Regions from separate parts of the Homo sapiens genome. Here regions 2, 3 and 4 are each linked to region 1. The links come from fine-mapping of genetic effects on plasma protein levels. A gene starts in region 1. Each other region holds a variant in brackets. All regions are shown on one strand. Distances are from middle to middle.

What was found. A credible set is the group of variants that fine-mapping cannot tell apart. PIP is the posterior inclusion probability: the model's chance that the variant is causal. Protein levels are from antibody-based Olink assays in UK Biobank. Linkage for the fine-mapping came from a reference panel and not from the study's own genotypes, which makes the PIPs less certain.
Region 2: its variant is the best candidate, but not a certain one, in a credible set for the plasma level of the GRIK2 protein (UK Biobank, PIP 0.52).
Region 3: its variant is the best candidate, but not a certain one, in a credible set for the plasma level of the GRIK2 protein (UK Biobank, PIP 0.84).
Region 4: its variant is the best candidate, but not a certain one, in a credible set for the plasma level of the GRIK2 protein (UK Biobank, PIP 0.70).

What each region holds. Positions count from the first base shown.
Region 1 is chr6:101,389,242-101,397,498 of GRCh38, reverse strand. GRIK2 (glutamate ionotropic receptor kainate type subunit 2) reads right to left here and starts at 3,791. Exons shown (of 17, transcript NM_021956.5): 1 at 3,662-3,791.
Region 2 is chr6:100,870,243-100,878,499 of GRCh38, reverse strand. All of the region lies in intron 1 of ASCC3 (activating signal cointegrator 1 complex subunit 3), which reads left to right. Among named protein-coding and RNA genes, the nearest start is that of ASCC3, 7.0 kb to the left of the region's middle. The variant A/G (reference allele first, on the strand shown) is at 661.
Region 3 is chr6:100,886,842-100,895,098 of GRCh38, reverse strand. LOC107984041 (a long non-coding RNA gene) reads right to left here. Exons shown (of 8, transcript XR_007059692.1): 2 at 3,054-3,101. It also overlaps the pseudogene LOC728098. Among named protein-coding and RNA genes, the nearest start is that of ASCC3, 9.6 kb to the right of the region's middle. The variant G/C (reference allele first, on the strand shown) is at 5,195.
Region 4 is chr6:100,880,203-100,886,602 of GRCh38, reverse strand. ASCC3 (activating signal cointegrator 1 complex subunit 3) reads left to right here and starts at 5,274. Exons shown (of 42, transcript NM_006828.4): 1 at 5,274-5,542. It overlaps LOC107984041 (a long non-coding RNA gene), which reads right to left and starts at 5,146. Exons shown (of 8, transcript XR_007059692.1): 1 at 4,949-5,146. RefSeq lists an enhancer at 5,311-5,430. The variant AT/T (reference allele first, on the strand shown) is at 3,102.

The sequences.
Region 1 (8,257 bases):
TGGCTAGTTCTGCAGTATAGCAGGCAATTCAATCAAATAATTCGACTGTTCGAGCACCTTAAAAGGAACACCTAGTGCTAAAACCAAGGGTATCTAGCGACTCCTTCAGTCCATGTTTAAAATATCTCTTATAAAACACATACACAGCCCAACACGTTCTGTCTTCTATTTGCTGTCTCATTTATTCCATTCTGTTTGTTCATTTTCTTTTTGATCCTAGCAGAGATAATAATGACTGCCAGGGGAAAAAAATAATCCTTCACATTTTTATCTGCCAATATAACTGATATCTACTACCTGAAAATAGCATGTTTTATTGTGACTAATCAAAATACTGAAATTTCACAGTGTAGCTGGCATTTATTGGAACCTGAGAAAACAAAATGTACCACATCTCTTTGTTCATGTATTCCATTAATATAATGACATTTTACATTATGGTTGCAACTTTTGCACTTGAAACTAGTATTCTAAACTATTTATTTTGGGGGGTTATTTGGATGTCTAGTTGGAAAAGTGAAAGATCAAGCCTCTATATTCATGAAGTTATTACACAATAAATTAAACAGTTAAAAGATTGTACTTTTTTAATATTAATTGATCCCCAAAGAACCAATTTTGCACATATGGTAAATTAGATTCATTTACATCCATCAACTCAGTTGAAAGGCTTTAGCACAACAGACAGCAATTCCACCTGTCCAGTTGAACTTCTAAAAGACTGGAGACGACCTTTCTTCAGGACCACGGACAGCGCTCCTGGCATTCATTATTCTGGAGTAGTACATTGAAAGTAGCACAATAAATAACTAACATGATATTTGAGTGACAATGTGTAAATTTCTACTACACAGAGTAAAGGAATTGGAATTATTGCATTGTTCACATTATCAAGAGGACTATTTTATCAACTGTGTTGTGTGTATTTTTCAGTGCAATTGCTTGATAAGCCCAAGATGTAGTTATCTTTTTTTGTAATAGGGCATACTGTTAAAAAAACTACTTATATTAATTGTGAGATTCCTCATGAACACTAAACTACTTGATTGTCAGTACAAAAAAAAATTGCTAGAAAGACCACAATTCAGAATGCCAAATAACATGCTGTCAATATTCAGTGGCTAAAGACATTTTTTAAATGTACAATTAGTTATCACTTTCAATTCTCCACCTCCAGATTTCCATCTGTTACTAGGGTAATGAGATTAATTCTTGTTCTTTCACATTAAACTCACTCACTTCCTGGGGGGGGGGGGAATGCTAAATTTACATCCCTATACTACAATAAAATGATTTGGTGGCATAGTTGATGCCTTAACATGTGGCAATTTTGAAGTTATTACAAGTTTCTCCCCAATACTGATACCACACATCATAGTTCTGAGGTTATATGAAGGATTAATAAATTCCTTACACAGTATTTCACTGACTAGATTTAACCCTTTTAAAAATTGTGTCAGTTCTGTAATTTGCTTCTTCCTTAAAGGAAAGAGAAAACTACTGCTATTGGATATCAGGCAATTATATATACTTAGTAAGATTTATATATTTTATTCTATGGTCTCATTTTTTTCCTCATTTTAACCATATGGCACTCTTTATTTCTATGAGCCAAAGCTCTGTAGATTCCAAGGTCAAAGCAGAGATAACAAACTGCAAAAACACACATACACGCACACCCAGAGAGAAGCTGTATTTAGAAGTATACCTCAAAAAAATCATAGAAGGCTGACACAAATATCAAACCTATGATAAATTGACAAAGAAGAAAATGCATATCATGTTAATGCAAAGCTTCTTCCAACAATAACAAAAAAACCCACTAGCTTCATCTTTCACTATATTTTTATATTTGCAGATACTAATGACCTCTTATTCTTGGGCACTATTACTTGAGAAACAATTTTAGTTTCCTATTCTGCCAGTGAAAATGAATCTTATTCTAGTTAGCTGCCACCTGCTGGGGTATGAGAAAATGTGTAATAATCTTTATAGCACAACATTTAAAAAGACAATGCCTATACCTTTTGCTGGAAACAGCAAATACATACCCCAGAACAACCTGAATTTCAAAGATGTTTCAAAGGTTCTTACATGCCATAGCTATATTTAAATTTTTCACATGGAATTCTTACTAAGGATTCCACTTGACTTGTCACGGAAGTCCTGCTGTTATGTGACATTTGAAAAACCTCATCTTATAGTAACACCTAACCTATTATTCCATGCAAGTGGCCTGTTGCATAGCAATTTAGCTAAAACAAACAGCCTGTTTATACATGGCATTAAAGATCTCAGAGAATAAAGTCAGGACTGAGTCAGGTTTCAGTTGAAATCACACTGTTGCATACTTGCAACTCACTCTTCTTAACTATGCATGCTGTGGTATCCCTTATGATTCTGAACACATTATCAGCTGTTCCAGCAACATTCTGCTGCATTGATGATTAATGACATTTAGAGTTTTGATTAATTTTTAGACACTAAAATAAGTGTATCTTAATTAACAAATTGAAGTGGAATAAATTTACATATCCCAGAACTTTTTTTTTTAAATTTCAGCCTGTGTGATTTTCAATGGGTTTAAATAGGAGAAAACAAACAGATAAGACTTCCAAACATTGCTCAATTCTCTATCACCTTGCTCTTGTGCATTTCAATTTTTTGTTGTTTGTTTGACTCAAAAGTTTTTAAGGCCACTGGAAGTTGATAGGCTGCCTTGGTGGTTACAGGAATAGACTCTATAAAGTTAGAAAGTAATGAACTAAGACAAATCAAGATTGAAATACAATTGCATTTATTTCAGTAACTAAACTGACTAATTAAGACTCAAATGAACCAATCATCTCTCGTGAAATGAAAATAATCATCAATCCATAAGATAATTTCTGATGACAGAATACTTACAGTATGGAGATGAATAAACGATAGAAGATAATCTGTGCATTACCAAAAGGCTACTAATAGTAAGTTTTCTAATATTCCCCATTGCCTAAATTGGAAATTATTCTCTAAGGAGCCTCAGCTCGGTCGTGTTGTTTGGTAAAGAAACTCTATCTCCTTAAAGGTAAAAATATCAGAGGATGTGGTTCGTTAAAAGTTCTTGAGGTTTATGATCCACCCTGGTAACACTGCCCACTCCTTACCCTAATGGGACGCCCTCCAAGTTTTTTCAGAAGCTCTTAATACGGGTGCCGGTTAAAATAAATATACTTCCTCAGCGCAGAACTAAGGAGTAGGGTTAATGGAAGGATGGGTGGGCAGAAGGAGGGATGGGGAGTTCGTCAGACCCGCCGGCAGCCACACAGCTTCTTGCCATCTGTCTCATTCTCTTCGCCTCGCGTGAGTCCCCGTAGCTGAGGCCACTTCCTGACACGTCCACTTCTTAAATCATTTTATGTGGAGAACATAGGCGACTGCAGCCAACAGAGCCACTTGCATGCTTGACGGGAATTGGCTGAGATAAGCCCGACAAAGACTCGCAGTGAATCCGTCCAGCGGGCGCCCCGAGCGCACGGACGTCCGCAGCGCTACTGTTCGCCTTCTTCCTTCTCTCCAGGTGGAAAATGCCCCTCGCCCACCCGCAGTCCCTCCCGTCCTCTTGAAAACAAACACCTCGTGAAGGAGCCCGGAGTGCAGCCCACAGCCGGGGAGTCCTTACCTGGAGCTAGGGGTGAGGTGGGCGGGGAGGGGGTGGGGTGGTCCTCGGGGAGGAGCAGCCGGAGGAGGTCGGGCGGAAAAGTCCCCAGCTACCAGACCGACCAGCGCAGCCGCCGGCGCCGAGCGCGAGTGACGGCAGCGGCGAAGACGGTGACCGAGGAGCAGCAGCGGCGGCGGCGGCGGCAGAGACAGACACGCCTCCTGGCGGGGGTTCCTCGCCTCTTGCTTTAAAGGCGCCGCGCTCCTTTCCCCGTGGCCCCTGCACGCTCCTGGCCGCCGCGGCCACTCGGGGGCATCTCCCACCCCTGGACCACAGGAGCTAGAGCGAGAGAATTCCTGGTGTCCCTAGACTTGGATGTTACGAAGCCTCCGGCTGGACTTCGCTCCCTTAGCGCACACCCGCCTCCTGGGATGGGGAGACTAAGGCCAAGATGCTCTGTCAGGGAGTGAGTGATGCATGCAAAGCGCCGAGGAATTTGCCTAGCCTTGGGTGGTGACAACACATATAAGGAGCCCAAACACATTTGCTTCTGGGTGATGGCTTTTATGCCTCTCCGAAACCATAGCAACGAAACTTCTCCACTGCCAGGGCTTGGAGGGCTGCTGGTAGTCTCCAAAGTGGACCTCTTAGTCCAACTACGGTCATTTCCCTGAGGTTCGCAAAAAAAGATCTTGATCTGCGCACCCTCCCACCCCGACCTCCAGCGCATAGAGCAAATGCGCTCTGGTAGCGCTGCTGCGGGTATTCCCTCAGATGCTGGGAGTCACAGTGCCCTGCTCCCTGCCACCATTATTGAGAACAGATGCTTGGAAATTGACTTTTCCTGAGTGTTAGGAGGTCGGGCGGGCTGTCTCTGTGTATGTATGGCGCCTTAAATAGCAGACTCCCCTCTCCCCACCAAACTCCCGCCCAGGCCCCGGAACTCTCAACCTAAACACATTTCAGAAAGAAGTTGGATTCGAGATCTAGTGGGCGCCGAACCTGAGGTCGCAGACTCCAAGATTGGAGACAGGAGTCTGGGAAGCAGCCCTGGTTTGGCGGCCACTGGTCCAAGTTCTCGGGAGGACTCTTTTAAAGGCCAGAGATGGGGAGGGGCAACTGAGTCCCAGAGTCTTCCCGCAGCTTGGCTTCCAGGGAGGGGCTGGCGGCGGTGAGCGCACCAGGCTCTCCCTGCTTCACTGTGGAAACGATTAGCTTTTGCAAACAATCCCTGAGTTCCGCTCCTCTGGGTCGGAAAAGTCAACATCTATTCAAAACCGTTGCTATTTTATCCTCAGCCCTACAATATTAACTGGAGCTGAGTTTAGCAGTTTCCCCCAGAGGAAGTTGGCCAGCTCAGATTCGCGAGGAGATTTAAGTGAGGCTAAGCGGGAACAGGCCAGGCGCACTGGGCTCAAGAGACCATTTCAAACGGGCTGCATAAAGAAGGGGCCAGGGGGGATTCCACGGCTCTGCAGTCCCCTAGCAGTTCCAGTCCCTGGTGGTTCTCCACTATCTATCTAATTCCGAGGTCCGGGAATTAGAGAGGCTCTGAGTCCCCAGGGACCCGTTGTCTGAGCTGGAGACCAGAACTTGCCCTTTTGCTTCCTCCTTCACTGCAGCCCTAGTAAAGTTAAGCCCTCGCCGGACCCTGGCGCAGCAGGGCCATGTTCCACACCCTGAGGCTAGCGCCTGGCTCAGAATAGCTCTGAAACACAGAAATTCAGTCCTGCCAAAACCGCCAGTCTTTCCCTCTTGGTCACCATCCAGGACTCTCTGCGCCCCGTTCCCCACAACATGCTTACTGAGCATTCCTGGGTGGGGCAGGGTTGGGGGGAGGGGGACTGGGGACTTATGTTAAGGAGAGATGAGTTAGTGGCAATGGAGAGTCCATTAGTCATTTGAAGATCCCAGGGGTGGCTGGGCGGCTCCCTTAATTAAGTCAACAGCAGCCTTGTTCTACCCAGTAAATAAATAGTCAATGACTCTATTGTGCATCCTGGAGCGGGCAGCACAGACGCGTGACCGGTTCTGGGCGCCTGGGCTCCAGCTGCTGTGACCTGCAGCCTAATGGGCCCTCGAGGCACAGCCGAGTTTGGGCCAGGCTCCGAAAAAATGCCCCATTCTGTCCCATTCCTCCATGGGAGTAAGGAAGATAACTTGTCTACTGGCTAAAGACTCTCTCCTTGTCATGATTACATCCACCCACTTCCAGGCAGAAAGGAGCAAAACACCAGCACGAGCAGATTCCAGTGGAAATCCCTGAGTGAAGGCACCCAGCTCTTGTGACAACTCTGAGAGTGTAGAACAGAGTGTGTCTAATTTGACATTAAGTGTTTAGCATAGAGTCTGGCATGCAGTAGGTGCTGGATAAAGAATGGTACTGGGATAGACCTTCCGCTTTCCACACTGTTGCCCCCAGACCCACATTGTACTTGGGAAAGGAGAGGCTTACTAACAACTTCCTGTTAGTGCTGTGTATGATTTGAGAGCCTTGTCACGAATCTATTTTTTTGAAGCAAACAGGACACACTTGTAAAGACAGAAATAACAAGTCCCAACAACAGCATAGGAGAAAATAGGAGAGAGCTGGAGTGTAGAACAAATCAAAATTATGCATGCTGTGACAAATTAATTTTCTCAATAGCAAAATATTATCTAGATTCCAATGAGAAAAACAGACTAACAAGGGAGCATTAGACACCACACAATCTATTTAACCCTTCAAAAATAATTCAATGCTATAAAGAAATATTTTTCATGATTTATTTTAGGATTTAGGAAGTTAAACATTTAAGGAATGAGATCTCAAGTATCTTCTCGGGCAACCATGAAGCTTTTTTTTCTTTTATTTCCAATCACTCTTAAGGTTTAATCTTCTAAAATTTAGAAGGTTGCTAAGTCCTTCAGCTACAGTCTTATGCAGGAACAACATCCCTACTTACTCTCTCTTGCCCGGCTCCCGCCCTCTCTTTCTTCCCTCTCAAAGTGCTCTTAGAACATTAGCAGCTCAATATTTCAATTTCTGAAGACACAGCAAAGACCAGTCTGAATTCAAGCTAACTACCAGGATGTTTGTTTGTTTTGGCTTGATTTTGTTGAACTGAATGTAAAATTGAAAAGTATTATTTTGGATCATCTCATTAAACACCTTCATTTTATAGATGGTAAAAACCAAAGTGAGAGAAAAGGAGTGACATACTCAGGATGTGGCAGAACTGAGACTGCCTTCTAACTGTGCAGAACAGCATCAGGCCGTCTCTTGTAGTCTCTTTCAAAACTTAGACTTATATGAAGTCAAGACTTAAAGACATTTCAAGGAAATCTACTCTAGTTCAGTTTTCACAGACCTTTCTCTCATCTGAAAACAAAATGAACACATGTGCAATGACTTCAAAATTTTACATGCAATAATAGGAGATGCACAGATGCCTTGAAGGCCATCATGGGCTGGTGAGGAGCTTCTTCACCCTAAGCTGAGAACCACCAATCTATTCCAACAATGTGATTTTAGAGATGAGAAAATCTAGACAATGAGAACTTAAAGAGTCACAGAGTGAGTTAAAAATAGTTCTAGGACTAGAGACCCGGTATCTTGCTTCCCACTTATTCCCATTCCCTCAGGTCATTTTAGCCATAATTGGACATAAACATGCTGAAGAAGAAATGAACGGATGTCCTTGATTAGTCAAGAAAGGATGGGACCTAGTACAAGAAGAGGGGTTTACTTTGGAATAGGAGAAGGACCAATAAACCCTAGTAATAGGAAGGGAGGCACAGTATATAATGCAGATGTCAAATAGTTTTTAAGTGTGGTGTTGAGGGTCTATTTTTCCTACATGCGCTCCAAAGCCCTATGCTGGGCTACTTTGCTCCATAGATACCTTCCTTACCACTCTCTGCCTTCCACTATCCTAACTCTCACGCAGATGACTGTTTTGCTTGGTCTCACTTAAATAATTTAGTACTGAATTTTTCAGTAAGGGAAGGGAAGGAGAAGAAGAATAGGAACAGAAAGAGGATACGAGGTCCTGTTGTTGTTCTTTGTGTTTTCTTCATGACGTAAAAGTAAAAAGCAAGCTAAGAGTCTTGAGTAGGGAGAAAGTAATAGATGTTTAAGGAGAATGGAGAAAATGTGGCATTTTTATCAGGAGCATTTTATCAGGAGTGTGAAAGGATAATAAAATGTAGTTGGATACTTGTCCAACAGTCAGGGCCATTCTACCTTGATGACTTAGGAATCTTTGAACATTTCAAGAACTCTCATTCTTCCTTTCTACCAGTATAAATCTTAGGCTCTTTAGGTTACAATACTTGGCATTATCTCCCCCCATCTACTCCACTACTGTTACCTCTTCCCTTACCAATTCCTAAATCTCCAAGTCCTACTTCAAAACAATTGAAGTAGCTAATTATAAGATCGATGTAAAAGTAATTCCAGTTTTTAATAACTTACTTTTTTTTTTTTTTTTTTGAGACACAGTCTCGTTCTCTTGCCCAGGCTGGAGTGCAATGGCACGATCTCAAGCTCACTGCAACCACCGCCTCCTGGGTTCAAGAGATTCTCCTGCCTGAGCCTCCCACATAGCTGGGATTACAGGCACCCACTGCCATGCC
Region 2 (8,257 bases), 520 kb after region 1:
TCTGGTGTTAAAATATTTTTTTTTATTTGTTTTCCCAAGGACATTTAAAGGAAAAGCCTTCCTTACCCTGTGCTAAAAGTAAAATTAACACAACTTTGGGGGGGAATATTCTGAATATAAAGACTAATCTGCTTTATAGTTATGAGCCTGTCCAGGATTTTTTTCCCCCACCTTTGAATGGGAAACCTAGTTAGAGGATAAGTTAGAGAATAAGAGCCCCATAGAAATTTGGTTGTTTTTAACCATTATATATTTTGTATTGTGTGAAAAGTGTTTATGTGTTTTATTATTTTTGTCATGCTTTCTCTGTTCTGCATGCTTCAGATGTGTTTCCTAACTTGATTGAGAACTATTCAGGAGCAATTGCTTCTTGCTTAAGAATGAGTTAGCATCTAAAGTGAACTTGTTAGGTGGAAACTGTGAATAGCTAAGATTACCTTTGAGAATCCCTTAAAAGGACATCAAGTTGGCATAACATGCTGTCTCTCAGCATGTCCTACACAGCCATGTTTTTCATCCTGACTTGGAATGTATCACAGTTTCTTTAGATGAACTCCCAGTGAAAAAGTTGCTCTGTGTTTGGTCACCACCTTGTATGTTTTTTAAAAAAAGAGAAAAAGTGTTAAAAACTAGAATCATGCAATGCAGCAAGATGCTCAC[A/G]TTTTGAGATGCATGTGGTGATTGAAACAGACTAAAAGAGCAAGATTCTTGTTGCCCATCCCCCATTCACTCTGGAGCAGATATTCAATACCTGAAATGGTAAGCAGAATCTCTAGTAATTATTGTTTTTGTCTGTCTCTGCCTTCCTTTTTTTGGCCTACAGTGTTTGGTAGATTCAAGAAAGTTAAATGTGCCTAGACTCTGCTGTATGAACCAATTGATGGTAATAAGGTTTAATACAAGTAAGAAATTAAATTATCTTTAGGATTTATCATGAAAAAATCACCCCCTTTTGAAATCGCATAATGGAGGATTATAAATATGTGTCGACGATGGTTATTTTCTGAGTTCTGATCTTGCTAATGTTAACAATATCACAACTCAATTTTTAAAAAAGGCACAATAAAATATAAATATTCTTATTCACTGTTTAATATTTATTCACTGTTCATTTTTCAAGGTGTGGTTTGTGGGTACAAGATTCTATTTTAAGTACTGAAATCTTAAATTCTAATTTTACTCCATTTACAACCTACTCCTTCATGTCAGTGTTTTTATCCCTTAATCTGCAGTATATCACTTTGACTATTTTTGTCCCTTTAATAATTCCCTAGTATCCATAATTGCCAGTAACTAAGTGCTGACTTTAAACTTATTAGGAAATATAGTTTGGCTGTTTTGGAGATCTTTTCATATTTTTATAACGAAAAAATACAGTAACTATCTTTTCCTAAAGTTGCTATCAAGCAGTCAGACCATCTTTAGAGTTTAGAAACACAGGTTTGGTTTAAGAAGAATAAACATTACAATTTTAAATGTAGTACTTCAGAATAGTGTGTACTGGAATTCTAGCTCACTGATTATTGGTTAATATCATCTTGCAAAAGGAAATATGCTACCATCAGTTTAGTTTTCTCCTTATTTGGAATGTAAAAAAGGACAGTTACATTTTTAAGACTTTCTTTTTACCTGTACGTATGTTTAATTAACAATTTAAAGATTTGTTCAGATAGCCACAGCCAGTACTTCTGACGAACAGAAGTAGGCTTTTAGGGTTTCAATCCTTTAGAAATTATATTTGTTCTGGGGCATTAAATATTTATTATTAACAGAATTTTTCATTTATATATTTGTCATTTAGTGGACCATATTAAATGTGGAGTAAAAATTAGTAAGGTAAAAATTGATATGTAGGCCAGTTTTTCTTAATCCTTATTCACTGTGATCTTACCAGAAATTTTAACTATGAATGTTATGATTCATCTTTAAGACCTCCTAGTTGAACATCTTTTCCTTTCATCTAGGCCTAAAGTTAAGCACTTAATAACCCTTATCATTTAGGCTTCATTGTCCCACTGCCTCTGTGTTACAAAACCTTAACCCTGGTTCACACCAACCTTTGTTCCTATGCCAGATTATTGCCACCTTAAATTGTTTGCAGTATGAGCTGAGCATTCATTGCTACCTGAAAAATATTTCTTCTATTATTGTGGGTGGTAAGTTCAGACTTTTGCCTCTGTGTTAGAAAAAATCCCACCTCATCACCTGTTTGAACAGTCTTAGCATATCTCAAATAAAATCAGAGTCATTTTGGTGGAACTCCCTTTTACCATGTTTTTCTCTCCTCATTCACCCTCTGCTTAACCATGTTATAACCATATGCACTTCCACTCATCCTTCCTTCCGTACTCCTTCATCTATCCAAGTCTCTCTAGACCTATGCTTTTGTTGTCATTCTCGCCTGCATTCTCAGAGACCCTACTCCATCAGTCACAGTCTTTCTCCTGATTGCTCAACTTTTCCTTCTCTCTTTGCTCTCCCCTGATTATGATAAAATCATGATCAACTCTATCCTTTATTTTCAGAAACTCTTAAACCACATTATTTCAGTATTTCCTACTTTTTCTCCTTTTCTTTCTCATTTTCTTGAAAGAATAGCATGTACCCATTTGTAGGGTTTTTTGTTTGTTTGTTTGTTTTTTCCCTATTTTCTCCCTTTGCGTTTATCCTTCAACTCACTGAGATTTAGCTTCTACCATTTTTGGAAACTAGGTGTGCTAGTCATCTAGGACCGCAGAGTGGCTGAGTACAGTGGACTGTATCATGTCATTTGAAACTTTCTTTTCTGTTGTCATATCACTTTTCCATATGACAACTGATTTGTGGATCACTTTCTTAGAACTCTGTTCTTAACTCTCTACTGTCTACTTCCAAGAGGCCTTTAGGGGTGGAGTGCATGAATGGGCATTCATGCAGCTTTTGAAATGGAGTACAAAATGTTGTTTATATGTATGTATGTCTGTTTTCTTAGGAAGAGGGTCCATGGGCTTATGTATATTTGACTTAGACAATATTATGTTCATCCATGGTTTTAACTATGATGAAGTGATAACATGAAATTCTGGATTTCCAGCCCAGACCTCTGATAGGAAATCCAAAACCATATGCCCCACTTGATAGCCCATAATTAAAGTTTTCCAAAACAGAATTATCATTCCTCTTCCTGATGCCCTCTATACATATAGACTCCTCCACTCTTCAACATTTCCTAAGCCAGAAATTTGAGTGTCCTGCTCCTTTCTCCTTCTTTAAATCCTATTCCACATTGATTCTGTCTTCCAAGTATACTGATCTCCTAAATCCATCCTTTTATGTGTTTCCCTGGCTTAATTCTATCCTCTCTGTCTTTCAGTTGGTTTATTGAAATAACTTCCCAACTGGTTTGCCTGTGTCCTGTTTGACCCCACCTTGACAGTTCACCACATGTAAATCTGAGTAATTTTTCTGTAACATGTTAGTATTTTTTCAGTGATTCTGATTATCAGAATGAAAAGTGCCTAATTTGAGACATGTTGTTTGGTCTCTGCTTACATTTTTAGGTCTTATTTCATCAGTTTCCAAATGCACATTCTGTAGGGGTTTTAAAAGTAATTAAGTCTGTTATTTTGGCTTTCCCCCTCATAGTTTACCTCTTGTAATAACCTTGTCTAGGTCCTTTAAGTCTCAGCTCAAGCTCAGCTTCCTTCTTTATATCTAGTGCCCTCCCACCCCTTTAGATGCTCCTTCCCTGTCTTCCTACAGTTATAGCTGCATAATTATTGCAACTATTTTTCTTTCTTCCCAACCATACTGTAAGCTCATCATTGAGGGCAAGTGCAATCATATCAAAATGTTTTTCTTTTTTTAATCTCTAGAGCCTCATAAAATATCTAATATATGGTGGGTGATCTATAAATATTTGCTTAGTGAATGAATAACATAATATTTAAAATTTGTTTTCTCAATTTGACCTTTATACATTTCAAATAAAACTTAAAGGGAATCTTTTTCCTGGTACAAAATACAATGAGTTGTTTTTTTTTTTTTTTTTTTTTTGAGACAGAGTCTTGCTCTGTTGCCAGGCTGGAATGCAATGGTGCGATCTCTGCTCACTGCAACCTCTGCCTCCCGGGTTGAAGTGATTCTCCTGCCTCAGCCTCCTTAGTAGCTGGGACTACAGGTGCGCACCACCACGCCCAACTAATTTCTGTATTTTTAGTAGAGACGGGGTTTCACCATGTTGGCCAGGATGGTCTCAATCTCTTGACCTCGTGATCCGCCTGCCTCGGCCTCCCAAAGTGCTGGGATTACAGGTGTGAGCCACCGCGCCCAGCCTAAAATGCAATGAGTTTTGAAGAACTGTAAACTTCATTAACATCCAGTGCCTAGCCCAGATCCTAGTAGATAGGAGAAACTCAAATATTTGTGTATAAATGATTTATAGGTAACAATGAACTAATGAGCTGTTACATTTTTAGTGTTGCTCATTCAACCTGGGGAAGAAAACACATCAAATAAAAATAGCAAATCTGGTAATGTGCTTTGCTTCATTCCCTTAACAAGCATAATTTCATGCTGATTATTTTGATAAGATCTCAGGGAGCTTTACTTGATGTGTTTCCAGGATTTGTTTCAAGATTTAGAGCTCTTTTTAGCAGTTTTTGTAGTGCTGGCTTGGTAGTGGCGTGTTCTGAGCATTTGTTTGCCTAAAAAGACTGTACCATCCCTTCATTTATGAAGCTTAGTTTTGCTGGATACTAAATTCTTGGCTGATAATTGTTTTGTTTAAGGAGGCTGAAGATAGGGCTCCAATCCCTTCTAGCTTGTAGAGTTTCTGCTGAGAAATCTGCTGTTAATGTGATAGGTTTTCCTTTATAAGGTTACCTGGTGCTTCTGCCTCACAGCTCATAAGATTCCTTCCTTCATATTAACTTTAGATAACCTGATGACAGTGTGCCTAGGCGATGATCTTTTTGTGATGAATTTCCCAGGTGTTCTTTGAATGTCTTGTATTTGATTGTCTAGGTCTCTAGCAAGGCTGGGAGAGTTTTCTTAGATTATTCCCCCAAATATGTTTTCCAAACGTTTAGATTTCTCTTCTTCCTCAGGAACGCTGACTATTCTTAGGTTTGGTAATTTAACATAATCCCAGACCTCTTGGGGGCTTTGTTCATATTTTCTTATTCTTTTTTATTTGCCTTTGTTGGATTGGGTTAATTAGAAAACCTTGTCTTCGAGCTCTGAAGATCTGCTTGTTCAATTTTATTGCTGAGACTTTCCAGAGGATTTTGCATTTCTATAAATGTGTCCATTGTTTCCTGAAGTTTCGTTTCTTATTTATGTTGTCTATGTCACTGAAGATTTCTCCCTTCATTTATTGTTTATTTAAATTTCCATAAATTGGGCTTTGCCTTTCTCTGGTGCTTCCTTGATTAGCTTAATAACTGGCCTTCTGAATTCTTTTTCAGGTAAATCAGGGATTTCTTCTTGGTTTGGATCCATTGTTGGTGAGCTACTGTGATTTTTTGGGGGGGGTGTTAAAGAACCATGTTTTGTCATATTACCAGTGTTAGGTTTCTGGTTCTTCTCATTTGGGTAGGGTCTGTCAGAGAGAAGGTCTAGGACTCAAGGCTGTTGTTCAGATTATTTTGTCCCACGGGGTGTTCCCTTGATGATATTCTCCCCCTTTTCCTAGGGATATGGCTTCCTGAGAGCCAAGCTATAGTGATTGTTGTCTCTCTTCTGGATCTAGCCACTCAGCAGGTCTACCAGGCTTTGGGCTGGTACTGGGGGTTGTCTACACAGAGACCTGTGATGTGAACCGTCTGTGGGTCTCTCAGTCATGGATACCAGCACAGTATTTGGGGTATATCCTGGGCCCTGCAGGAGCAATCTGCTTCCTTCAGAAGGTCTGTGGGTTCTCTTGGCTTTCCTGATTTATTCCTGCCGTCATTCTGGAGCAAGAGTTTACAATGCAAGACTCCACACGGTGCTCTGTCAGAGTGGGAGCTGCAGTCTAGTCCTGCCTCCCGTCTGCCATGATCCCCCCCCGACCCTTTTTTTTTTCTACTCAGGTCTCAGGGAGCTTTAAAGTTTTCAGTTACTGTAGTTTGTAACAATGTGACCTCATTACCGAATCCTAATATTAGATCTCTTCTTAGAGGTTGAGTGTATTATCTTGTTAGGATTTGCTAGGTTTGTGAGTTAGAATAAAAATGAAGTCTTGCTTTCTACTTTTTAAAAAAGAAAGGCACAGAGGATTCAGGACATTACTGTGATGTATATAAAAATGGTGAAAGTAGTGGTCCCAAGTACCCCATTAATTTGTAAGACCATGCCAGAGGCACAGTATTAATACATCATGTTTCTTGTTCTGATGCTACATTTTGAAAGCACTAACTTGTGTGGTAAAAGGTAGGTTCTAGGTTCTGAGGCAGAGTATGTTTAGTTTACTATCAGAGCCTTTCTTTAAAGACTTGACTAAATTTAGTTATCTTGAATACATTTTTGCAGTGTCTCAGTGTGGGTAGAAAATAAAAACCCCAATGCTTTGGCATCCATTGTATACCTTACTTCCTCTCTATGGATGACATGTACAGTGTACATACATACTGTGTACTGTGTACAAACATACTGTGTACTGTGTACAATTCTTGGGAGAATTGAGAAAAAGTCAAGTCACTTTCAATAAAAGAGTTGTATTCTCTTACAGACCCCCATTGAGAAAGGCTGGTAGGAGCCAGGCTATGCACTGAATTCAGGCCATGGATTTCTGTCACCCAGGCTGACTGCAGTGGCATGATCATGGCTTACTGCAGCCTTGACCTTCCGGGCTCAAGCAATTCTCCCACCTCAGCCTCCTGAGTAGCTGGGACTACAGGTGCATGCCACTTGCCTGGCTTTTTAAAATTTTTTTGTAGAGTTGGGGGTCTCACTGTGTTGCCCAGGCTGGTCTCAAACTCCTGGCCTCAAGCAGTCCACCTGGCTTGGCCCCAAAGTGCTGGGATTACAGGTGTGAACCACTGTGCCTGGCCCCCAGTCCATGGATTTCTTAATAGATGAATTTCTTCCTTGGCCATTATTGGCTTGAGACAAAATTAAGCGGTGATTTAAGAATAAAAGACATTGGCTAGGCATGGTGGCTCACACCTGTAATCCCAGCACTTTAGGAGGCCGAGGCGGGCGGATCACGAGGTCAGGAGTTTGAAGCCAGGCTGACCAACATGGGGAAGCCCCATCTCTGCTAAAAATACCAAAATTAGCCGGGCGTGGTGGTGCGTACCTGTAATCCCAGCTACTCGGGAGGCTGAGGCAGGAGAATTGCTTGAATCTGGGAGGTGGAGGTTGCAGTGAGCCGAGATCACGCCACTGCACTCCAGCCTTGTCAACAAAGTGAGACTCCGTCTCAAAAGAAAAAAAAAAAAGAATAAAAGACATCATCTCTAAGACAGTGGTTCTCAACTACGATCCTTGACCTACTGCATCATCTGCAAAGTTGTTGGAAATGTAAATTTTCAAACCTCATCTCAGTGCCATCTGATCTGCTGAATTGGAATATTGGGGTGAAGAGAGTAAGGTGGTAGGGCTCAGCCAGTTTGTTTTTCAAGAAGCCCTGCAGGTAGTTTCAATATATAATAAAGTTTGAGAATCTCTGCTCTGTGCTGTCCACTGACTCTTGCTTTCATTTTTTTCTTCCAAATGCTCCAGGAAGTATGTTATCTAGTGTTAGAAAAATCCAGATGTGATTCCCTGAATCATCTTATTTCCATGCTCTCCTGAATTCACTCCCAACAGGTAGTTGAAATCTGAAGTCAGCTAACTTAGAAGTTTATTTGTAAGTTGGATCATTTGACTTCTCTGTTTAAAATTCTCCAATGTGATGTAGAGAGTCCAACTGTTTTTTCCCCAGCTGTCCTCATACCAGTTCTTTACTGATTTGCAGTGCAATCATGTTTGTTTTTAATACCTCATTTTTTTGTTTTTGATTTGTAATAAATATTTTGCTCAAAGAATGTGACCTCTATCAGGGATCAGTAAACAGATTTGGTCACCCTGAGCCCCAGAATGGGTTTTACACTTCTAAAGTGTCATTTTTAAAAAAAGGAATGAATGTATGGCAGAGACTGCGCTTGCCAAACCTAATTTTTTTTTTTTTTTGAGACGGACTCTCACTCTGTCACCCTAGCTGGAGTGCAGTGGGGCCATCTTGGCTCACTGCTACCTCTGCCTCCCAGGTTCAAGCGATTCTCATGCATCAGCCTCCTGACGCATGAGAAAA
Region 3 (8,257 bases), 500 kb after region 1:
CTCCTGGGTTCAAGTGATTCTCCTGCCCCAGTCTCCCAAGTAGTTGGGATTACAGGCATGCACCACCACACCCAGCTAATTTTATATTTTTTTTAGTAGAGATGGGGTTTTGCCATGTTGGTCATGCTGGTCTTGAACTCCTGACCTCAAGTGATCCACCTGTCTCGGTCTCCCAAAATGTTGGGATTACAGGCATGAGCCACCGCACCTGGCCCCTATAATCTTTAAGGCTGTTTTTTACTTCTCAAAGATTAAAGTCACATGAATTAAAAAGTATCACAGCTTTTATCTTCCCTTTGAAAAATATTTGATGCAAGCACTCATTTTCCTTTAGGCCAATTAAAGCTATTTTTATAGACATCACAAACACAACACATACATAAAACTACACAGACAGGCATAAGAAAACCCAGTTGCCATAAGATCTTTTGCTTGCCAGTCTCCTACTTGGATTACTGGCCTCCTGGTGGAGCCCTTTAAGAGACAGGGCCAGGAAAACACATAGCCTCTAAGGCCTAATAAACAGGCATAACTGGGGGCAAAAACAGATTTTGAGAGGAATCTATCCACTTTTAATTCCATTAGGAAAACAGAGGTCTCTCCCTTCTCATGCATGCATTGAAAGTGGCAAGGCAAAACGGAGAAAAAGAATTCCATTCACTGAGAACAAAACTTTTTCCACTGGGAGGCCGAGGCAGGTGGATCACAAGGTCAGGAGTTCAACACCAGCCTGGCCAAGATGGTGAAACCCCGTCTCTACTAAAAATACAAAAATTAGCTGGGTGCAGTGGCAGGTGCCTGCAATTCCAGCTACTTGGGAGGCTGAGGCAGGAGAATTACTTGAACCTGGGAGGCAAAGATTACAGTGAGCCGAGATCGTGCCACTGTACTTCAGCCTGGGCAACAGAGTGAGACTCCGTCTCAAAACAAAACAAAACAAAACAAAACAAAAAAACACTTTTTCCAGCCAAACAAGATCCCAGAAGAGAAAAACATTAAGATCTTTTAAATATACCTATAATTTGGATATCCACTTTCAATTAAGCTGAATGCTCTTTAAGAAAATCCTTTTAACACCTTATTACCTGACTTTAGCTGTGCCAAGCGGCCAATATTTCTGGCTTTCAAACTTTACTGAAAGCTCAGGGAAAGGAAAATCCGAGGTGGTTCATGTAGAGGAAGAGAATCAATAAATGGCAAAGGTCGCACAGATATCAAAGCAGAAAGGAGTCATTTCTTTTTTTTTTTTTTTAGGTGTATTATACATTTCTTCTCTTTTTTTTTTTTTTAATTATACTTTAAGTTTTAGGGTACATGTGCACATTGTGCAGGTTAGTTACATATGTATACATGTGCCATGCTGGTGCACTGCACCCACTAACTCGTCATCTAGCATTAGGTATATCTCCCAATGCTATCCCTCCCCCCTCCCCCCACCCCACAACAGTCCCCAGAGTGTAATATTCCCCTTCCTGTGTCCATGTGATCTCATTGTTCAATTCCCACCTATGAGTGAGAACATGCACACATATGTTTATTGTGGCATTATTCACAATAGCAAAGACTTGGAACCGACCCAAATGTCCAACAATGATAGACTGGATTAAGAAAATGTGGCACATATACACCATGGAATACTATGCAGCCATAAAAAATGATGCGTTCATGTCCTTTGTAGGGACATGGATGAAATTGGAAAACATCATTCTCAGTAAACTATTGCAAGAACAAAAAACCAAACAGGAGTCATTTCTTAAGCCAGGATTGAATCTTGGCTGTGTAGACGCTAAACAAAGCATTGCCACAGGGTTACACATCATGCTCTCAAGGACCTAAAACAAGAGGGAGGCCCACAGCAAACTTTGTTGCTGATCATTCAGAAAGTCATGCAAAGCACACCGGATTGGCTATCGCTTAAGACCAATCTCACAAATCCTTTTTCATAACTGAAACTTTACAGAGAATATAAACAGTGATCACTGGGGTCCTGGCCTGGTTAAAATGTTTTCCAAAAAGAAAAAAAAAAAGTAACCCTCTCACATAAAAATTAACTGCTGACTAGATAGCGAAAAGGAAACAAAAGTTAAAGTGCAGGGTTGGAAAGATGCCTGGGGGAAGAACTTCATATTCTTTTGCAAATTGGTTCCTTTCCCCCAGGCATGGACCCAGCAGGAGTCTGGCCAGCCAGCTGTGCAGAGCCCAAGCCCCCAAGGCGGCCCTGGTGCCTGGATAGTGACTGTGGCTCATTCCTGCCATGCAGCTGGACACTGCACACACATGTGGCAGTCAGGGCCATGCACTCCACTCAGCTGGGAGAGAAGGCGGGTGGGGAGCCACTGCTTGCCCAACCAACCCACAGGCATGCTTGTGGCTGTTGTGGTGGGTGTGGACCACCTCCCATATTGTAAAAGAAAAGAAAAGAGAGGGGAGGGGAGGGGAGGGGAGGGGAGGAGAAAAGATAGATGCTGTTACTGTCCTCAAAAAAAGAAGAAAAATGTCATAGGAACAAAATACTCAGAAATAAAAGTGAGAGGTTTTCAGTCCACATTTCACTCACCCTTCTTCATGTCCCAAGTTCTGGGTGCCAAAAATGTTGAGAAAAAAAAAAAGTTCTTGCCAAGTGACCAGGTAAAATTAGGCATGCAGACACTTTGCAGGGTGAGGGGGAATGGAATTTACTGGGCAAAAAGGAAAAAAATACTTTGCAAAGCGAGAGGGGTTCCTGTTAACAGGCCTCACAGATTGAATCCCAGGTCACCACACAGGAACTGATGAGCCCAGGCTCCTGCCCCCTGCAAATGGCGTGAATTTCCTGAGGCTCCACCCCATCCTCCCCATGCCCAGGCCAGTGGGAGCTTCTCCCAGGACCCTCCCTTATCGTCCTCCTGCATCTATCAGTTGCATGAAGTGGTGTATAGCACTGTTCACTTAAGGTTTCTATACTTTGGAACACTTCAATGTTTAAAAAAGCTATAGCTCAATTTTTAAAAGTTCTTGGTCAAATAATAAAGGAAACACTATTATAAAAAGAAAATTATTTAACAAATACTTACTTATGTCTACTATGTGTCAGGCACTCTGCTGGTACTCGTGGATACAACCTAAAGCAAAAACACAGAAAACTGGCATATACACTGAATCAGCCACTTTTATCCTTTAAACTATCACCAGCAACAAAAGAATTTTAAAATTCAGTAACTTTATATTCTAGAATGAATCCTACAAATACACCTTTTAAGAGTTTACATATGAAAGGTTTTATAAATAAATTCTACCTATACTTATATGATCAATTCAAATTTCAGTTTTCCACAAAGGCTTTTAATCTCCTGCAGCCAACAGGGGCCTATCTTTAATTTAGACTCCTTTTGTATTCATAAAAGAAGTATCACACAACTCAGCACCTAATTGTTTTTGAAAAGTCTTGTGAATGTTAAATTTGTCTCCTACCCAAACTGTAAGTTCTTGTAAATTCCTTGAGAATAGAGATCATATCATATTTTTCTTTGGAATGTTTCACAATGCTTAGCAAAGTGTGGATTATGAGATATATGCTTAATTAGTTGTGGGTAGAGTGAATGAAAATTTCACTTAATCATAAAAATACTTAAGAATAGTTTAAGTTTCAGGAAAAATTAATTTTTAAAATAATTAATATCCAGCATTTTATTTTGCCATCTTCTACTAGCTCAATTTTCATATGCTTGAAAGAGATAAAAGTTATTATTGACATTACATTCCATTCTGTTCCCTGAGGTTCAGTTCTGATAAGAACTGAAGAGAGGCTACCCTTATCTGCTTAATACCAGTATGTTTGCTTTAACTGAGGAAAAGCTTTATGGGTGAAACATTTATCTCTAAATATCTCTTTATCTCTTACAGTAATAGAACCCATGCTTTTTAACTAAGTATATAGTTGCTTAAAATGAGGACTGTATGTTCTAGCTTTCCTTGCAACTGGGTGTCACCATGTGACTTAAGTCTCGTAAATAAAATATGACTGTAAGTGATAGGTATACTTTCTTTTTTTTTTTAATCAATTAGCTAAAAATTTAATTTACATACATGTTGGCCTGGATTAAAAACAAAAAAGTTAGTTTCCATAAATAGCAGACTTTAGGGCTGTATGACCCAATGACTAAAAATAAAACCAGGAAATTTTTACTAAAAGCTCAAGGATAAAAATGAACACTGGCTGGCTATTGAACTCCACATCTGACAATAATTACTGACAGTTTAAAAATGACATCCACAATATAACCTCAAGAGGACCAGGTTTATTTGTCCGACAGAGCAGCTCAAAATGTTGAGGCATCACTTGTTTGGATTATGATGGGTTATTCTCAAAGTTTATTTATTTAGAAGGGGAAAGTGATTATAGAAAAATACTTGAAGTAATTTGCCAATGAAGTCACAGATTCTAACAATAATCCACATCTTAGATTTTTAAGTGTGTAGTTTCATAGTTTAAACAAATTCTGTCAAAGAGCTAGTGAATATACTTTATCACTTTAACTTTCCATGAAAACCAAATAAAAATCACATCTGAATGATTTACTTCTATGCTTTTATCTGATTGTATACATATGATGTACTACACATCCAAGTACAAGAGGCAGTTATCTTCTCTGAGAGGTGCAAGAGTTGTTCTTTCATGAATGCCCTCTAATAGTGAAACCAGCACTTTTTATATATGCATTCATGTGCATATATACGTACTTCAAAAAGCAAAGCGTCATCTCTTCGTCCATTGTTAACTTAATGGTAAGAATGGGGGCCACCAGGCATCAGTGGAGTACCAGAAGGTCCTGAAGGCACTTAGAAAGGATTACTAGGAGTAGGATAGAGTCCTGGTGTGGGATACGATCCTGTAGGGGCAGGATATGGTGCTGGTGGTCCCCAGGCTCCTAGTGGAACGGTGCCCCATGGAACAGGTGGTGCTGCCCCAGAGGCTTGGGGAGGAGGAGGAACAGGATATGGCCCTGGAGATGGATAGGGCATATTAGGGGTAGGATACTGCCCTCCCATTCCTGGCACCCAAGGTCCAGAAGACATGGATCCCCATGGACCTAAAGGACCAGCTGCAGCTGGATCTGTGGGTAGCACCATATGGTCTGGGTAGCTCTGGAAAGGGCATATTTGGTATAGGATATGGCCCTATGGGCCAGGGCCTGGCACAGTTGAGGCTGGATAA[G/C]GACCACCAGGTGGGGGGCATGATGGTTCAGAAGGAGTAAAGGGTGCTGGGGGTCCTGGAGGTGGTCCGGTGGGAGGCACGGAGAGATACATTCCTGTTGGTACTGGTCCAAAAGGCACAGTGGAGGGTGTTGCACTTGGTGGGAGTCCAGATGGCACCGAAGGTGGAGTACTCGGATTATTCCAAGGGTTGGAGCCTGGTCAGCTTTGAGGAGGTTGGCCAGGTTTTGTATTGCTCACAGCAGAGGTTTTGGCAGGGGAGTGTTCAGGTAGTGCATCTGCCAACGAAAATTCATCAGACATTTTCCCAGCAATATCCGAGACTGCAGGAGGGTCTAGAAGCGGCGATGTGTCCAAGGGACTGGGCCCTGAAGAAGCAGGCGCAGCCTGACTGACTGCAGCGAGAGCAGCGGCGGCAACAGCACCAGCAGCACCAGCAGCGCACGGCTCCTCCTCGATAGGTGTACTTTCAACTCATGTTCCCAAAGATATGTCCTTTTCTTCTCCTCTTCCTTTAGACTGCTGCTTGAAATATATATGGTCATGACTGTGAGCCATTTTGAACTATTAGATGAAAACAACACTCTAGAAATGGCAAAGTGACAAGAAAGAAGGTACTCTCGTCCCGGGATGACTAAATTGAGAAAGCAACTACACAATTTCAGGAGTACCCATCACTAGCCTATTATATGAGAAGAAAACTCTATTAAGTTGTTGGTTTGGGGTCTCATATCCTAACTTATCTCTTGGAGGAATGATAGAAAGACAACAGTTGGCAAGGAATGATTCTTCCCTTTTCACACAATGCTTTAAGGATAAATATATTTCAGCCCCAAACTTTGGTGGATTATTTGCTTGTATAAGAAAGTCAAATCTAGTTTCAGATATTAAAGGCTAGATAAAAATCATTAGTTTTGAAGCTAATTACTTCCAATTTTCTTTTCTCTAGGTCTCATGCACACACACTAACATATGTTCATAGGTATACCCACATTTATCATGGGGTATCACCTGGCATTTAGGAAACCAATTGGACACCAGGTTAAATTAACCAGTGACAACTGTGACTTGTAGTTTTCATTTCATATGTTTATATTGACTGAGAATGGTGTTGCTTTTTGCAACCTAATCTATGACTGCATTCTTGAAATTGGATTTTGTCTGATTTTTGTATTTTATAAAAATTTAATATCTCACTACCTGATTGGAAGTAGTTTAAAATATTTTTGCAATGAACAATTCATAATTTCAAGGACACCAAAAGAAACATGGCTTTCATATTGCATATTCACTTCAAAATTTATATAGCTATACATTCCTCAACACATTAAATGTTCCCTGTATTTTCAAACATCCTCTACTTCTTCCCTCCTGTGTCCCAGGAAAACTTCTCTCTACCAAGGTTAAGAATAACTTCACCCACAGACTTCAGTGTATCCTTGTCTGCCTTTACCTTATTATTTCCTTACTTGATTCACTTCTTATAGGTTCTTTCCTTCTATTTATATGTTTTTTTTTCTATCCTAAAAACAACATGCAAGTAACAGTTTTTTTCTGGACCTTGATATTTCTTCCATATATTGCCCTGCATTTTTCATTCATTTATTAGACAAAAACAATTATCATCACTGTTTTCACTTTCTCACTTCTCATTTACTCTCTTACACTTGACATCTAATGCCATGCCTACCATGTTACTAAATTGCTTCAAATCATCAATCACTTAAATTTCCAAAGACATTTACTCAATCTTCACCCTCCTTAACTCTGAAGCAGGAATTACCTTGGTGATTGAAGAAAACTTTTTAAATATACTCTTCGTTTATCTCATAACTCTTTAACCACTCTTTTTTTCTCCTTCATTGGCTCTCTTTCTTCCTTTCGGTACTAATTTTCCTGCATATGTACTGTTTTTTACCCTTTCCATGGTAATATTTTTTAAAAATTTCTTTTGAGGAACTACTCTTTCCTCCCTTTTATTCTGGCACTATTTGGTTTACTATATCTTCATTTTTTGTTTTACTTTTTTTAAATATTGATTATTATTATTTGAAATTTTTTCTTTTCATAGGTTATTGGGGCACAGGTAGTGTTTGGTTACATGAGTAAGTTCTTCACTGGTGATCTGTGAGATTTTGGTGCACCCATCACCTGAGCAGTACACACGCATGCAATTAGTAGCCTTTTATTCCTCACCCCCTTCCCACCCTTTCCCTGAGTCCCAAAGTCCATTGTGTCATTCTTATGCCTTTACATCCTAATAGCTTACCTCCCACTTATGAGTTGAGAATGTAAGATGTTTGGTTTTCCATTCCTGAGTTACTTCACTTAGAATAATAGTCTTCAATCTCATCCAGGTTGCTGTGAATGTCATTAATTCATTCCTTTATATGGATGAGTAGTATTCCATCGTATATATATATCACAGTTTCATTTTTTTGTTTTTCAAATTTCCTATCTTACCATCTAGTCTATTGAATTCCTTCTTTTTTTTTCTCTTATGTGACCTCACTTCTTGAATCCTCCATGCTCTTCTCCAATGTATACTGCTTGCTCTCTAGACTTGCTGCACAGCCATCCTGCAGAGATTTGTCCTTACCTTTCTCTAGCATCAGCATAACTTTTTGTCCTTATTTTGTTGGATTGTATGGCCTAGTGACATTCCAAAAGATCACCCAGGAGAAAAATATTCTACATCCTTGTTAGTCTGAAAATATCTTTATTTTACTCTCATAGTTAATTGATAATTTGAATGAGTATAGACTTGTAGACTGAAAAACATCTACAACTACAATTTTGAAAATATTCTGTCATGTCTTCAGGTATGCAGTGATGCTGATAGCATCAGTCCCTATTCCTTTGTTGATTATAAGTCTTTTATGTTTAGGAACTTTGGGGATTTCTTCTTCTTCATAATTTTTATTTGTGGCATTACATGATAATATCTCCAGGCATGAGTTTTTTAATCTATTTTTCAATACCCTGAGTCTACTCAAATCTGAATAGTTATTTTCTTCTCTGCTCTAAAAAAAAAAAACTTATAATTTTCTCACTCTCCCTCCCC
Region 4 (6,400 bases), 510 kb after region 1:
CATAATATGTTCTGAATTCCATATTAATTCGGGTGCTTCTTTAAAATCTTTTATTTATGCTTCCTTGCCTTCTTTAGAGTTAGTTTTTCTATGTTTTTCTTTGTATTTTTCTCTCATGATGCTGATTTTCCTTATTTGCCTGTTAATTCTTCATGTTTGTTCATATATATATATATATATATATATATATATATGTATATAAAATTGGTAGTTGATGCAGTTTTCTTTTTGTAGGTAAGAAGTCTGCCAGTTCTCTCTCTCTCCTATGTAGGAATTGTGAATACGTGGCTGGGTTAGGTAGGACAGGGCCAGGAATGCCAAATATGAAGTTTCACTTTACATGAGTAGGCAATTAGCTTATTCTCAGGATGCTGGCCCTGAATGCTTGAATAAGAATGTTTTTCCTTTGTGTCATCAACCTAAAAGTCTTCACTTTTCTGTACTAGTTATTCAATTAATTTGGAGAAGATTTGGGGGGTCAGTTTTGGTCTTTTTGTCTGGTGGCAGATATTAATATCTTTTGCTTGCTCTCAGTCTATATGTCTGAGAAAGCGAAATGTGTATGGTGATAGATTCAATTGTGCCATATTTTATCCCCATTTTCAGCCCTTATTCTCACTTCTGCCCTATCCTGTGTAGCTTCTCCACTATATTTTTTAGGCTATGGTTTTGGTCAAATCACTACTATTTGCTTTGTATCCCAACACATTTTTGAAATTTCATTTGCTTCTCTTGACATCATCTACTTTTTTCTACTCATGTAAGTGCATGCATACAGGCACACATCATCTTTACTCCTTCACTTATTCTTCATTTTTTCTGTTTCTTCATTTTTATTTCTATGGTGTGTAGGAAAGGATAGTAGGCAAATGATATGCCGAGTTCACCATATTGAACAGTAATTCAAGAAAAACCCTTTATATATTGTAAGCACATATTTTGAAACCTGGGTAAAACATATTGCAGGATTCTCCGAAGCTGATTGTCCCTTGGCCCATATGCCCACCTATACAACATTCTTATTCAAAGGGAAATGAAATTACTTTGGGAGAAGCTCACATTTTTTGAGTTGTTTGGTACTTTTAAAAAATCATCTTACTAGTTAAGAAAGAGGAAAGAAATGGTGGTTGAGGAGGCAAACAACACTGTCTGCCATGGTAGTAATCTAACTTTTTTCTTTTCTAATATCATTTATTTAAAAGAGTAGAAAAACATTTTAGAATTGAGTCTTTTATTAATCAGCATTCCTCAAAGGTTAAGCATCAACTTCAGAGCAGGAACTGCACTGGAGTGCAGTAAAGATGGAATTTTAAGACTCGGTGTTGCAGGATAAGGCAGGGGTGAAAAAGGGCAGGGAAGAAGTGACTGACAATAGATAAAATAAGAAAGGCCTAGAAGCTGAGGCTATGGCACACTGGTGAGCTAGGCAGACCTAGTGCACACACATACTGAAGGAGGTATCCAGAGACTGATGGGCTGGAAATGGTTCTGAAACTTGGCAACCCATCCTTACAAACCATGAAGTGGCAAATCTGATAATGAAAGGCTAACATACTAAGGATAATGAAACATAGAAATGAAAAAAGTCAAAAGCATGAATGATTTTGTTGAGCTGTAAGAAATAGGTTGGAAACACTTCCACCTTGAAATTTTCTGTTCTTGAGACAATTTTGAGATAATTTAAGGCACTCTTTGCAAAATAATCATGTTACACACATACAGAAGACACACACAAACATATATAATTTTACCTAAATGTGTTCATATTATGTATAGATTGTGTTGCAAGCTCTTTCATACAACTGTACATTTTGGACATATTACCATATCAAGCAATACAGATTCACATTATACTTTTTTAATGCCTCTATATTTAGAGATGTATTACAATTTATTTAAATAAATCCAATATTGAGCCTTTTTTTGGTATGATACTTTTTTTTTTTAAGACAGTGTTTCACTGTTACCCAGGCTAGAGTGCAAGGGTGCGATAATGGCTCACTGTAGCCTTGACCTCCCAGCTTAAGTGATCCTCCTGCCTTAGCCTCCTGAGCAGCTGGGACTATAGGTGCATGCCACCACACCCAGCTAATTTTCATTTTTTTTTTTTTTTTTTTTTTTTTTAGAGAAAGGGTTTTGTCATGTTGCACAGGCTGGTCTCAAACTCCTGGGCTCAAGCAATTCACCTGCTTCAGCCTCCCAAAGTACTGGGATTACAGCTGTGAGCCACCACACCCAGCCATATGATATATTTTTAAATGCAATGTGGAGTTTTGTTTTGTTTTTCAATTAGAGATGGGGTCTTGCTCTGTTGCCCAGACTGGAGCTGAATGGCATGATCATAGCTCACTGTAGCCTCAAACTCCTGGCCTCAAGAGAGCCTCCAAATTCAGTCTCCTTGGTAACTAGGACTACAGGTATGTACCATCAAGTCTGACTATTTTTTTTCTATTTTTTGTAGAGATGGGGGTCTTCCTATGTTGCCCAGGCTGCTTTTGAACTTCTGGCTTTAAGTGATCCTCCTGCCTCAGCTTCCCAAAGTACTGGGATTACAGGGGTGAGCCACTGCGCCTAGCCCACTGCAATGAGTTTTAATTGGTTTCCCAGCCATGCACTAATTTCAACCCACCCTACCCAATATTGCCAAAGTAATCTCCCAATCCCATTTTGTGACTGCCAAACACTGACTGCCTATTATACTCAATTCTTTAAATTTAAAATTGAGTCTCCTTATAGACTAGTTTGTTTACATTTTAACTTTGTCACTACCTTCTATTAACAATGTTCCATTACAGATAAATAGGTTTTCATTATCTAGAATGCAGTTATAGTCTTGTTTCTTGTCTTTGCTCATGGCATACTTTCTGGACGGTCTTTCTCTTTGTCATCAGGGCCATTTTCATTAGGTTGTCTTTCCACTAACATTTGGGGAAGCTGGGCTTGATGGCAGGTACCTGTAGTCCTAGCTACTTGAGAGGATGAAGCAGAAGAATCATTGAGCCCAGGAGTTCACGGCTGTTGTGCACAATGATCATGCTTGTGAATACCCAGTGCACTTCTGCTTGCGCAATACAGCAAGACCCCATCTCTTGAAAAAAAAA[AT/T]GGGGAAACCCTGGGGACTATAAAGAGGACAAAGATAGCTCTTAGAGTTCAATGAAGTAAGACCATCCCTCAGTGTCCACAGGGGATTGGTTCCAGGACACTCCCACATACCAAAACCCCAGGATGCTCAAGTCCTTACACACAATGGTATAGTATTTGCATACAAACTATGCACATTGTCCCATATACCTTAAACCATCTCTAGGTTACTTATAATACCTAATACAATGGGAAATGCTATGTAAACAGTTGTTACATCCATATTGTTAAGGAAATAATGACAAGAAAAAAAGAGTCTGTGCGTGTTCAATGCAGACATTACCATTCTTTTTTTTTTTTTTTTTCAATTGTTTTTGTTCCAAAGTTGGTTGACACATATACAGAAGCCATGGATACAGAGGGCTAACTGAATTTCCTTCCAGGCCAGGACTATGTAATACAAATATGATGCAAGCCACCTATGTAATTAAAAATTTTCTAGAAGTCACATAAAAAGTAAAAATAAAGTTGAAATTAATTTTAACATATTTTATTTGATCCATTATATATTATTTCAACATGTAATCGACATAAGAATTACAATATTTTACATTTGTTTTCTAAGTCTTTGAAATCTGGTGTACATTTTGGACTCATTGCATGTCTCAGTTTGGACAAGCCACATTTCAAATGTCAAGAGACGTATTTAACTGGTGGCTACCCCAATGGATAGGGCAGTTCTAGGTAGTCTATTTTCAGTTCCTCTCTTCTCCCTTAAGCCTCTGGAACTGTGATGGGAATAATCTGTCATGTGAATTCCTAGCACTTATCAGCACCTCTCATTATCACTTGGCCTCCTTGCATTATTTATTTTTGTGATGCATTTGTCTTGTCTCATGAACTAACTTGTAAACTCTATGAAGTCCAGGACCAAAGACACATGTAATCTCAAGACTGGAAATATCTTTAACAAAACCATCAACTAATTATTCTGTTGATGTGTGGCTCCCCTGTACCAAGTCCCTATTAAGTGAGCTTCAGAATCTCCTTGAAGCAAAATTCTGTGGTTGAGGTATTCACACATGCTAAGGTAGGCAATTCTTTGGGTCGTGCTACAAGGGCATCTTCTTTTCAGGATCTTAAATCTGTTCCCTGAAGTTTGCATCACATGAAACAAATCAACTTCACATGATAGGTCATTTCATATTTGGAGAGAGTCCAGTAGTTTTCTCTCTTCTAGGTGAGTCCTGGAAGGTTTAATCAATCCTTCTTCACTTGCCCTGTTTTTGAGTTCTCGTCATCATTTTGCTCTTCCCTGATATAATGCCAGCTTGATTAAAGTCTTCAAATGCTGAACACAGCACTTCAGAGGTGGTCTGACCAGTAAAGACAATAACTGGATCACTATTGGCTGCCTCTACAAAACAGTTCTACCAGGCATCGGGGCACATTACCTTGAGGAAGCGGGAATGGCAGAAGAGAGCCACAACAAACATATTAACTCATACTATCTTTGCATTGTTGGCTTTTAGTCTAGAACTCTTTGCAGATAAACCACACAATTCTTTAGGTTAGTTTTTCTTCGTATCTTCCTATCTTTTCAATCGAGTTAGGGAATCTTTGGGCTTTCTGTTTTTGGAGGAGGTCTTCTGACCGAAGAGCCGACTTGCAGAGATCACTTTGAGGGAACTAAGCTGAGAATCCAGAAAGCTTATGGAAAACAGGCCTTGACACCAGAGAACCATGTATACTCTCTAGCAGCCAGAGGGCTTTGGCTGAAAACGACGATAGCAACTACCTGTTTCTTCATTCAAATTGCTCTCCTTTCCTTTACCTTTAATAGGAATTATTTCCTCCACATATTTACCTTACAGAGAAGGGCGGGGAGAAGACGCGGCAGACTGAAGTAAATGCAGGGAAAAAACTCACAGGTAGAGAGGTAGAGACGGCAGGCCTGGCCCGTTGCGGGCAGCCAGGGTAAAGTGGAGCGTCCCGCTCCCGCCCTGGGGCGCATCCTCGCCGCCGCCGGGACCTTCCGCCTCTGCTCCTCCGAACCCAGCGGACTAGAGGCTGGAGGCGGGAGGCGGAGCGGCGCGCGCACGCGGGCGGGGCAGAGGGCCCGGAGTCGACGAGTCGACGTGCCGACGTTGGCGCTGCAGCGGGGCGGTGACGTGTAGGCCGGCGCCAGCTCCACTCTGTCCCTCCTCGCCGGGTCTGTGCGTCTTTGCGTCTGTCTGTCTGACTGATGGTCCTCACACGCGGTTCCCTGTGACTGGGCGCGACCCCGGCAAGCGCGGCTTGGAGGGCGGACGGGGCGCGGCGATACAGCTGCCCGCTCGCATCTTTGGCCCTGCGCTCAGCTCCTCACCCGGCGTGGGAAGTTAAAGTAAAACCGAAAGGGAAGAAGGCGCGGTGGCAGGAGCTGACAGAGTGATGGGAAACGCGTGAGCCAGGCCGAGAGGTGAGGAGGTGGAGGTGGAGGTGGGAGGACGAGAAGGGTCGCCGCGGCCAGGGGAGCTGGCTGGAGGCGGGGACGGCGAGGCGGGCTACGCGACCCGCCAGAGATTCTCTTCCTGCCTCCGGGGCAAGTCCCGACCTGTCATCCTTTTCAGTGGCATGAGGTCGAGTCCGGGGTCTCGCAACAATACCGCCCATTCCTAGAGTTTGTAGGTGGGGTTGGGGATAGAAAACTTAACCTAAGCTACATATTGTCCAAGTGTTAAGCCACAACGTGACCAGATGAGGTTTTTCTGTCCCATGCATGGGTAATTTGTTTTCTTTTTTTCTGTTACAAAGCCTTGATAACTTCGTTTTCTTCACGTAGATTTGGGGAAAGAAATCTTCCTCATATTTTTCCCCCAACACACTGGAAAGTAAATAGGTAGCTGACCGTGATGGATTGTGGGTGAATTTCGCAATCAAGGAGCCTATAATGTCATTTTGAAATAAATAAATGTGTATGTGGGTGCTAGGGAGGTTTTGTGAGTACTGGGCAGTCATTTCAAATAGGTTTCTTATAAATTAACTTACTCATGGAATGCAGTGTGCTAATGGTATTTGCTATTCTTTGGTTTAAAAGAAGCATAATTCTAGGGGCTGGTAAAAGTTTGATGTGTTGTCACTTGTGCATTCAAACTCATGGTTACATTTTCTTTCTTTCCCTAGGTTAGGTGAGATTGACAGCCATTTTCTCCATCACCAGATTTTATGTTTCATAGATTGAAATCCTTTTTCTGATTCTCAAAGTTCTCAAATGTTGAGAATTAAGCTTTTGGTTTTACTATGGATTGTGCTCCAGTTTATGTTGTCTCTTTTTTTT